Linked DNA regions of Homo sapiens: region 1 is linked to region 2. The links come from fine-mapping of genetic effects on plasma protein levels. Region 2 holds a variant in brackets. A gene starts in the other region. All regions are shown on their reverse strands. Region 1 holds the start of CCDC50 (coiled-coil domain containing 50). Region 2 has its middle 38 kb from the start of MIR5195.

What was found. PIP is the chance, under the fine-mapping model, that this variant and not a neighbour inherited with it causes the effect. Protein levels are from antibody-based Olink assays in UK Biobank. Linkage for the fine-mapping came from a reference panel and not from the study's own genotypes, which makes the PIPs less certain.
Region 1: it holds the start of CCDC50, and the variant in region 2 is fine-mapped to the plasma level of the CCDC50 protein (UK Biobank, PIP above 0.99).

The regions. Positions count from the first base shown.
Region 1 is chr3:191,325,995-191,331,315 of GRCh38, reverse strand. CCDC50 (coiled-coil domain containing 50) reads right to left here and starts at 1,922. Exons shown (of 12, transcript NM_178335.3): 1 at 1,593-1,922. The coding sequence starts at 1,641. UTS2B (urotensin 2B) reads left to right here and starts at 790. Exons shown (of 9, transcript NM_198152.5): 1 at 790-902; 2 at 2,607-2,685. RefSeq lists enhancers at 1,153-1,753, 1,754-2,355 and silencers at 1,767-2,046, 2,147-2,226.
Region 2 is chr14:106,810,329-106,815,702 of GRCh38, reverse strand. It overlaps IGH and IGHV3-74. Among named protein-coding and RNA genes, the nearest start is that of MIR5195, 38 kb to the left of the region's middle. The variant G/A (reference allele first, on the strand shown) is at 3,039.

The DNA.
Region 1 (5,321 bases), not on the chromosome of region 2:
GAGTTTTATGTTTTTTCACTCACATGAATAGGGGATTGGATAAAATCATAGCACCATATGATTAATACTATACATACCAGGTTTTGTTTGAACTCCAATTCTCATTCTACTCACCATGCACTACACACTGCACAAGGATCACTCTTTCTCTAGAGACAAACCCAACACATACCCACACAAAAAACCCTCATATCCAAAAGTAAAGGATAACCAGACAATCTCTAAGATAAGAACTCTCAAAAGTATGGATCCGCCTTTCCTATCGCTCAGCCTCCTTAGTCTTGACAGCAGAGTGAAAACTGTTTTCTACAGGTGAAAGCCCTAAGTCTTCATCAAAGCCATACCAGGGACGGAAAGGTAGAAAAGTATTAACGCTAAAATCTCACGCCTAAGCTTTAACACCCTTCCGGAACAGTAAGACAGAACTAGGCCCATCAGAAATTCTACATAAAATCAGTGACCACTAGTCACTAGTCTCCTAGTGCTTGAAACTCTGAGAAAGCAATCAAGCAGTCCCTCATTTTCCTGAGATTTTTGGGCTGGCCTGAGCACACACAAGACCAACGGAGTCAAATTAAGTTGGCAATAAAACAAGCGGTTCCAAGAAAGCAAAAACTATTTTCAATTCCACATCTCCAAGACGCCTCAGGCTACAGTATTCAATCGATACAAATGACATTCACAACAGAAGCCGATTTTGCAAAGCCCTTGGAACTTAGGGGTCTGCGTCAGCACTCTGGAACGTCTATGCTTCCTAGGACCAAAGAATAAACAAAGATAACTCAAGGCATAAGGCGATCCAGCACCTAAGATCTCAGCAAAAAAAAGCTAGGTCCTGAGGCAGCTAGTGGAAAAACAAGAGAAGGGAAGTCAAAAGGCTACTTGCTGTCAGCTAAAGCCAGGTCAGTACTAATCTCTACTTTCCTGGACATTGGTACAAAAAGCAATGACAAGGCCATCAGTCCCCTGTTCCCCTCGCTCACTATTGTGTGTGTGTGTGTGTGTGTGTGTGTGTGTGTTTTGTTTGTAAGAAAATGCTTATAGTGGCTTCCCGCCCGCGCAGAACACAGCCAAGACTAAACTTTTAAACCTTGAGGAAGGTGGGAAAGTCAGCCAGCCAGACGCCGGCCTAGGAAAAGTAGGGAGAGAAGGAGGGAAAGAGTCATGTTTCAAAACAAAGGCTCCACACGGAACTGAATGTCAACCCCTCTCCACTTCCCAGCCTTCAAGCCAGCCAGGCTGGGCCTCGATTTTTTAGAAGCGGAGTAAGTCAGATTCACCCGGCTCTCAGCGTCCACTGAGGCTTTGCGATGCACGAGAACACGGGCACAGCCACCTACTTGCTGGGGCTGCTGCTAGCCCCCCCCCCCCCCAACCACCCCCTTGAGAAAAAACGGGCTTGGAACGTCGGAGACTTGCCCAACGTCCCACACTAGAACCTGAATTCAATTCCTTTCACGTCCGGGCAAGGCCAACGCAGGGCGGGCACCGGGCGAGGGCCGCGGGAGCCGAAATGGCAACGCCCCTGACCTGAGAGAACCTCGGGCTGGGAGAGGGGAGGGTCCCGCGCGCTCTCCCTCCGGGGCCCTTACCTTCCTTGACTCCAGGCAGCTTGGACTGGTCGATGCTGACTTCAGCCATACCGGGCCAGGGTCCCGGTTGCCCCTTTAACGCGGGCTTCCCGGTCACCGCCGGCGCCGAGCGGGGCCCCGAGCGCAGCAGCAGCGCCGGACGCGGCGCAAAGTCCGGCCGGCAGGGCTCGCAGGCCGGAGAACGGAGCGGGTCGGGCGGGCAGGGGCTGGTGACCAAAGCAGCGGGAGACGGTCCCCGAGGCACCAAGCTGGCGGCCCAGCTGCCCCGCCGCGGCCACCTGCTCCGCGTCCCCGGCCCCAATCGATACCAAATATCCGGAGCCCGGAAATGGACCGGGGCCGTCCAGTACGGAGGGAGAGAGGAGACAGAAAGGCGGGCGGGCCGGCTGGGGGAGGGGGAGCTGCAGGTCTGTAACCGCAATTGCGAGTGGCTGGCGAGCGAAGATCAGCGCCCGCTGCCGCCTCGCTGTTGTCTCCTTTGTGCTCAGTGACGCGCCGCCTGAGGCTGGGGCCCCGCTGTGCTCCCGCCCCCGGGCCCTGCCCCCCTCCTACGGGAGGGTCGCGTCTTTAGGTGGGGGCCTTGTATCCTAAAGGCCTCAACAAAAAGGCCACACGGGTCACCTAAAACATAGTCTTTCCCGTGAGCGGTGTAGTCAGCATTCTGTGGTCTGGTTCTGGGATTGAGATTAACACAGGATGTTTACTGCATGCTTGCCTCTCTCTCATACACTCTTTTTGCACCCGGAATTAGAGGAGAGATGGTAGATGGCCATAAAAACCCCAAATACAACGTACAGAATGAAGAGCAGCTGATAAAATTCTGGGCCAGTTTGGAGTAGAGTGTGTACACAATCAGCTGGGAGAACTGAGTCATTCATTCATCAAAATCGCATGAATGTGTCTACCAAGTGTGATGTTAGGTACTGTGGGTGATAACGAGGCGTCAGACTTATCTCTGTTATAGCGCTGCACACATTGGATTGTAATTGTGACATTTCTATCTCTCTAAAATAGACAACCTCTCCTGTTTCATCTCCTGGCAACAGAATGCATCCTCCTTTTGGGAAACTGCCTCTTTCCCCACTCCTCAGAGGTGAGCTTCTCTCCCAAACGTGTGCCATGTCTGAACCTCGAGACTACCCCATCACTCTTCCCCCTTCCTCCACCGACATGGGTTCATCGAAGGGTGGCTGGGTGACCAAGACAGGTCAAACAGAATACTTTCCTGGGTACATAAAGAGTTACATATTCTGTTTCTTGTGGAAAAGATCTGCCTCTAGGAGATGATGAGGCCAAACTGAAGACAGAAGCAAAGAGAAGAGAAAGGGAGATGAAGAGGGCATGTTCTGATGTTACCACAGTAGCAAAGCAGGATATCCCCAGAGCAGCTGGCATTTCAGCAACTCCTGGATTCTGGGATCTACAACCCGCAAACTCTCAACTTATCCTCAGTTTTGCTTAAGCTAGTAATAGTTGATTTTCTGTCACTCACAGCTCAGAGTCCCAGTATGAGAGGCCACGTAGGGGAGGTTTTATTTGAACTTGACATTGAAAAGTAGGTGGATTTTAGGCTAGCAAAAATTTAGAAGACTTTCAAGGCCAGAGGGTAGCAAAGTATAGCCCACAGGCCAAATCTACGCCACTGAATTTGAATGACTGTTTTTTATATGTTCAAATAATTACATTTCAAATCACTACATAAATAGGACATAATATTTTCGACCTTGCCTCTTAAGCCTCAAAGTCTAAAATATGCTTTACAGGAAAAGTTTACCCACCCCAGTGCTAGGCAGAGATAACACTCAGCAGGTTAAATGTGGGAATAAGAAGGAAGTGGTATTAGAAAGGTAGATTTATGGGAATTTTTTAATTGTCCTGTAATCTAGTAATTTTTTTTAACTTCCTGTGGTCTAGAGAATATTTATAACAGCAGTATTTTCTGTTTCCCTCCCCAAATCTATCGTTTCTACTTCTCTACCAAGCCGTGCCTTTGGATGCCTACAGATAAATCACTAGGCCCCTTTGACCTGTGGCTTCCTGTTGTGATTGACCAATGGGAAGCACTGGCAGAAAATCAAAAGAAGGGAGGAGAGAAATATCAGAGTATTCTTCTTTCCTTTAACCCAAAATTTTGGCCACAGTCCTGTCCCTCTATGACTACAGGGCCTGTGTAGAGGCCTCTTTTCCATGGCCTCAGCTCTCATGGGTCTCTAATAAAACAATTTGTTTCCAGTGTCCCTTCAGGCCTAGAGTGTGATGGCTTCCCCTAGTTCCTTTTGGCTCACTGCAACTTCTGCCTCCCAGGTTCCAGTGATTCTCGTGCCTCAGCCTCCCGAGTAGCTGGGATTACAGGTGTGCACCACAACGCCTGGCTAATCTTTTGTATTTTTAGTAGAGGCAGGGTTTTGGCATGTTGGCCAGGCTGGTCTGGAACTCCTGGCCTCAAGTGATCCGCCCACCTCGGCCTCCCAAAGTGCTGGGATTACAGGCACGAGCCACCACGCCCGGCCTCCCCTAGTTCTCTTAACCCAGTTAATACCTCTGAAATTGTCTCTTCATTACATTCTTTTCAGTAAAATCACTTACAGTGCACCTCCTGTTTCCTACCTAGACTGTGACTGTTACAGTAAGATATGCCAAAAGTAAGATATGCTTAAAATATGATGTGCTTACAGTAAGATATGCATAAAAATATCCACATTTCTGGCCTAGAGAAGAAATGGAAACATATATAATAGCCACAACTATTGTTTAGAGAATCGGCTGCTTTCAGCAGAAAAAGTAATGAAAACCAGGAGCCCTTTTCAGGTACTAGAGCAGATGACCTGGAAATCCACCCCATAGTTGGGCTTTCCTTCTCCTACTCCACACCTGTTCTGTATAGGTCCCCAAGCTGAGCAAACAATTAGAGCTCAGCATTACAGAGTAGGCAACTTCTAGCAAAGGACTGACAGTAACACGGGGAAGAGCTAGTATCTTTTGAGTATTTATAGGGAATGAACATATGGTGAATTTCTGTAACAAGTTTACATCTTTTGGTGTCCTGAAATGTCCATTTTGCAATAAAAGAGAAAGCATAAGGCTTCTCAGGATGGATACAGATCCCTAATTTGGGGCAGATGCCAAACAAGTAATTCAGCATCAAATCACAACTTGAATGCCATAGAGAGAAATAAGGATTTTATTTATAAGGCAATATGGAGGCATCAATTGATTTTTTTTTCTAGGTGGATATTACATGATACATTTTCTACTTTTATAAAGTGAATTTGGTAACAATAAAATGCTTGGATTGGAGTAGGGAGACTTTGGTCATAAGAAATGAAAACTCCAGTTTGAAAACTACCAAATTCCACAAAAGCATCCCCCAGTTAGAGCTTACCTTACTAGAAGGTAAGCTCTGTGAGGGCAGGGGTTTATCTGTTTGATTCCCTAATATCCGCGTATCTAGAAAAGTGCTTGGCACATAATAGGCACTCAATAAATATTTGTTGCATAAATAAATAAATATAGTTATCCAATTTTATTATCAGTAAGAATCACAAATTAAAAGTAAGTTAAAAAAACAATATAGGCAAATGAATAAATTACACTGGACCTTGGCAAAACAGGAAAGGGGACCCACAGAACTATACTTCTGGAAAGAATTATCTGTCTCCTTGGCCCCCAGTGCTTCCTAGCTCATCAGCATAATATACCTAAGAGAACAGTTCCAAAAATGAGGATGCA
Region 2 (5,374 bases):
ATAAAACATAAATAATTGAAATTGGACATGAACTATAGAAACAATAATTGTCACCTGAATATTTATTTTCCTTCAAATAATATATAATTCAATGATAGTAAGAAGAGTCCTGATAAATAAATCATGTTGAGATAAAGAGCTACTGAATTGTGCATTCCACACTAAATGGAAACAATGCCATAAGATCCAGTGTTGTGTAGGATCTGTTTACCTTTTTACCTCAAATACTACAAGTCACTCCCTTGTTCTAATCACCCCGCAAAACTGATATTTTGTTGCTTTATGTTATGTCAGTAAAAATGATTCCACATTGGAAGCTTCATGTGTTGCTCAGAAATCACCCTGTTGATAAAATGAGCACAACTACAGTTACAACCTTTCTGTAGATATTTTCTGCATATGATCCTCACTTTTTATTTGTTGTTTTTGTTCACAGTTTCTTTAAGCACTCAGAGTTATATAGCATATTTTCAGCATATTTTAATTATTTTCCATTGTTATGGTCAGTGCTCCTGTGGGCTCAAGAGTCAGGTGTTGTGTGACTGCCAGTTGACTTCACTGCCACCTTTACCTACACAAAACACTGCAAGATGAACCATGATGTGTAAGAACCCATCCACAAAGTGCTTCAAATAAAGACAAGGTGACTTGTGTATAGATTTAGTGAGACTGGGGAACAGTTCACGGTGTTATGTTACAGAGGAGCAGAAAGGTGAATCTCTCTCGGAGTTATTGAGGGTGTAAGAGCTGCAGTTTTGGAGGGTGGTGAAAGGCACTTTTGAGTGGGAAGCCCTAGAGCATGTGTGAAAGCTGAAGGAATGATCACCATGCACATGGACGCTGATGAGGCATGTGGTAAGGTCCATTCCCTCCAGATGTTCCTGGATGGGCGGTTGTAGGATGGCTCATGTATATGAAAATGTGGGCAGGGCTGAAATAGGAACAAGGCCATCATCCCACGGGAATGCGAGAAAGCAAAACAGAGATGGACACCCATGAAGAGAGCTCATTAGACCTGGTGAAGGAAAGATAGGAATCTCTTCCAAAGGCTCCGCTGTTCTTGGCTAAATATGAATTGTGGTGATAGACTGAAAATAAGGAGGGGAAGGGAGATATGACTCAAGAGAGGAAAAACCCTAAGACAGCATAAACCAAATCTACACAGAACAATCACATGGTAGATGCCAGGGTGGGGCTGAAACAGGAGCTTCAATCTACTGGGTACCTAGTTGAGATCCTTTGACATTTCTTGTGAGGTAATTCTAGTGATGATGAATTTCCTCAGTTTTCCTTTGTCTGGGAAGTATTTCTCTATCCTTCATTTCATAAGAGATGTTTTATCAATTTTAGGTTCTTGGTTGGCTGCTTTTTCCCCCCAGAAATTTAAATCCAGTTATTTGCTGCATAACAAAGTTTCTGCCAGTAACAGATGGTGGTTCCACGGTGCTATACTTCCTTACTTATCTATATCTCTTTATGTTTAGATACACAAATAATTACTACTATGTTTCCATGGCCAACAGTATTCACTACGGTTGTTTCTGAGTCACTGGGGTGTTGCTTTTTCTGGCCAGAACCCTCTGTGGCCAGTGGCACTTTTGCCTGAGTTCTTGTCCTACATGTGGAAAGAATGAAGTATGCAGCCATGTGGAGGGTAAGCAAGACAAAGCCTAGCTTCATTAAGCATTAGAGCATCTCAGAGGAGACCCCCAGTGAGTAGCTCCTCTCTGTAGGCAGGTAGACTGGTTGAGTGTTCAGCTCTAAGCAGAGAGGGTAGCTCCTCCCTGCAGCCGGTCGTCCTGTGGTCTTCCCAGTTCTCAGGAGAGAGGGTAGCTCCTCCCTGCAGCTGGTCGTCCTGTGGTCTTCCCATTTCTCAGGAGAGAGGGTAGCTCCTCCCTGCAGCTGGTCGTCCTGTCGTCTCTCCATCCTCTGTCCTGCTCCAGCTGAGGCCAGGGGTTTTTACGGACCTCCGAGGGGAGGAAGTGCAAGCCCATTGGTCCATGGGTGCTCATGGGTGGGCCGTAGGAAGCACCACAAGTCCCGACTCTGGTCTGAGGATCTGGGAGCCCCGGCCCAGCCTTCAGGCCCTTCCTGGGGACCCGCCCCTGTGCACAGGAATCTTCCTGCCTCCTGTTGTAGTTCATGGTCCCTGGGGCTCCGCCCTGACTTTGCTCCAAGATCAGAGCAGGCACCAGCAGCAGGAAGAAGCCAGGAAGTGGGAGCAGGCACTTCGGAGCATGCAAGAGCACAGGGCTTTTCCTGGGGACCCCAAGAGTGCAGGGGCGCCTGAGGCCGCAGCCCCCGGTTTGCGGAGCAGGGCTTCTGCCGGCTTCATGGAGCGAGAGGCCCGTGTCTTCAGCCGCAGTTTGGGAGGCTGCAGCCACAGCCGGGGAGGCAGGGCTCCTTCCTGTTCCTCGACCTCCAAGAGCACAGAGTCCGAGCCCACTGCCCTGGTTTGCGCAGCTGGAGCCGCACCTGAGAGATGAGAGCTGCTGCCTGCTCCTGGCTCCCACCGGCTCCGAGGAGCATCAGCCCCTCCACCCCTCCTTGCAGCCTGGGCAGGGGCTCCTGATCCTCTCTGGGCCCTGGCCGGCGTCCAGGGCAGGAGTGACATCTCCACAAGCTCCCCGCATTGCCCCGGTGCTCAGGGAGGCCCGGGCAGAGCTGATGACGACCCCGGCCCGTAGTCGGGAGTGGCGGCCTCCATGGTCACCCTGACATGCGGCTGAACCCTGGGGACGCGGCCCAAGCAGCCTGCACAGAACCTCCCAAGGCCCAGGAACCCCGCACCCTAGGCGGGGTGGGCACAGCGGCTGCTCCGCTGCCCGGGTTTTCAAGGAGGCGCCACTTCCACTTCCCTCCCTGGAACCCCGAAGTTTGACATGGGGGCTCCTTTCTGCCTTGCTCCGCAGCTCCCCTTCCCCCGGAGTGGAGCCCCCTGTTTCCCTGGCGTTCCCTCCCACAGCTGCAGTGTTCTCCATCGGTGTCATCACCTTCCAGCTCTGCTGCCCTGCTCTGCAGACTAAGGCTCTGATTCC[G/A]TAAGAGAGGGGAGCTGCTTCCCAGTAGAACCTTGCTGGGGAGCTCTGTTCCCATCTCAGTTCCTGAGGGGTTAAACCAGTGCATTTAGGATACTGGTTTTGGTGGTTTGCCCCTGTTGAGTAATTTCTTAGTTCTCTAGTGGGTGTAAGAGACTTGGCTCTGGAAGCATTTCAGAAGTGTGGGCTCTGATACACCCCAGACAGACACTTTGGGAAGGGAAGATTTTTGTGACTATTCTCATTATAAGGGAAAGGCATTCAAAAGAATAGAAAAACTCTCCAGTATGTGGTTCCTGAGAATTTCTCACTAAAAACATGCTTATCACACTCGACTCAAAACAGTTCAATGTATATTAGTGTATTTTATCTTGTACTAGCCTTTATTGCATTTGGTGAACTCTGCCCCAGTTCAGCTCATACTCTAGCTTTGATTCTCCCTACAAAAACTTGTCTCTCTCTAGATTTCAGATTTGTTGATTGTCTTAAAATTTCAATGATCTGAAGTATTAAAGAAAATTTGCAAAAGTCCATTTTCTCTGATTAACAGTTATTGTTGATTTTATTCTTGTTGTAAAAAAAAGAAATTCTCATCTATGTACATTTCAAACCTGAATAACAAAATTTTTATTAACACCAAAAATAATAAAAGAATCCAAATATTTATCAGCTGCCTAATAGAAAAACAAATCATGGTAACATTGTTCGCTGGAATATTACCCATCATTCATAATAAGGGAATGTCTGATACACAAAATAAGAAGATAAAATTATCAAGTATTTAAATTGAGTAAAATAAGCCAAACAAATAAGAGTATGTATGATTCTATTTTTAAAAATTCTGGAAAATGAAAACTGATCTAAAGTAATATAAAGAAGATTAGTAGTTTCCTGGGAATATGTTGGCAGAAGGGAAGGAGAAAGGATAAGGAAATAGAAATAGGAAGTAGAAGGACAGAAAAGAAGTTGAGGGAATTTCACTTGTCCACCTTCCTTATAATGGTAATAGTTATGCCATGATTATCAGTTTTACACTTTAAATATGTAAAGTTTATAATCTGTCAATCAAATCTTATAAAATGTATTATGAGGAAACAAGTTGAAAATTAGACAATGTAGGAGTGACAGAAAGATAGATATGAGTATGTTGAATGTCAGAGATACCTGAAAGTTTATCTACCTGAACCCTAGTTCTCTCCATAGTTTAAGGTAAACAGGAGAGTGCAGGAAAATCATCCATATTCTGATTAGGCAGTGGCTTCTGCAAACCACACTAGGCCTGGCCGGCTGTGTCCTGGAGTTGGCTAAGGGAGGAGTCAGGGCCAGTGGTGAGAAGTGCAGGCCCAGATACCAGAACTCACTCATCCCAGACATGAGCTCTTAGATACACAGAGAGCCCATCCATGTGTGGATTTATCTTACATCTGTAAGTAGAGAACATTGACTCTTACAGAACATAATTTACACACATAGGTAAATCTGAAATAAGGTGATCAGTGTGAAGATTTTATCACAGCACAGTTTCATAATAAGCACAATTTCTCAAATCCCATTGTTGTCACCCATCTTCCTCAGGACACTTTCATCTGCCCTGGGTCCTGCTCTTTCTTCAGGTGTCTCACCCCAGAGCTTGATATATAGTAGGAGACATGCAAATAGGGCCCTCACTCTGCTGAAGAAAACCAGCCCTGCAGCTCTGGGAGAGGAGCCCCAGCCCTGGGATTCCCAGCTGTTTCTGCTTGCTGATCAGGACTGCACACAGAGAACTCACCATGGAGTTTGGGCTGAGCTGGGTTTTCCTTGTTGCTATTTTAAAAGGTGATTCATGGAGAACTGGAGATATGGAGTGTGAATGGACATGAGTGAGATAAGCAGTGGATGTGTGTGGCAGTTTCTGACCAGGGTGTCTCTGTGTTTGCAGGTGTCCAGTGTGAGGTGCAGCTGGTGGAGTCCGGGGGAGGCTTAGTTCAGCCTGGGGGGTCCCTGAGACTCTCCTGTGCAGCCTCTGGATTCACCTTCAGTAGCTACTGGATGCACTGGGTCCGCCAAGCTCCAGGGAAGGGGCTGGTGTGGGTCTCACGTATTAATAGTGATGGGAGTAGCACAAGCTACGCGGACTCCGTGAAGGGCCGATTCACCATCTCCAGAGACAACGCCAAGAACACGCTGTATCTGCAAATGAACAGTCTGAGAGCCGAGGACACGGCTGTGTATTACTGTGCAAGAGACACAGTGAGGGGAAGTCAATGTGAGCCCAGACACAAACCTCGCTGCAGGGGCATCTGAGACCACGAGGGGGTGTCCTGGGCCCTGTGAACTGGGCTGCTCTCCGTGGCAGC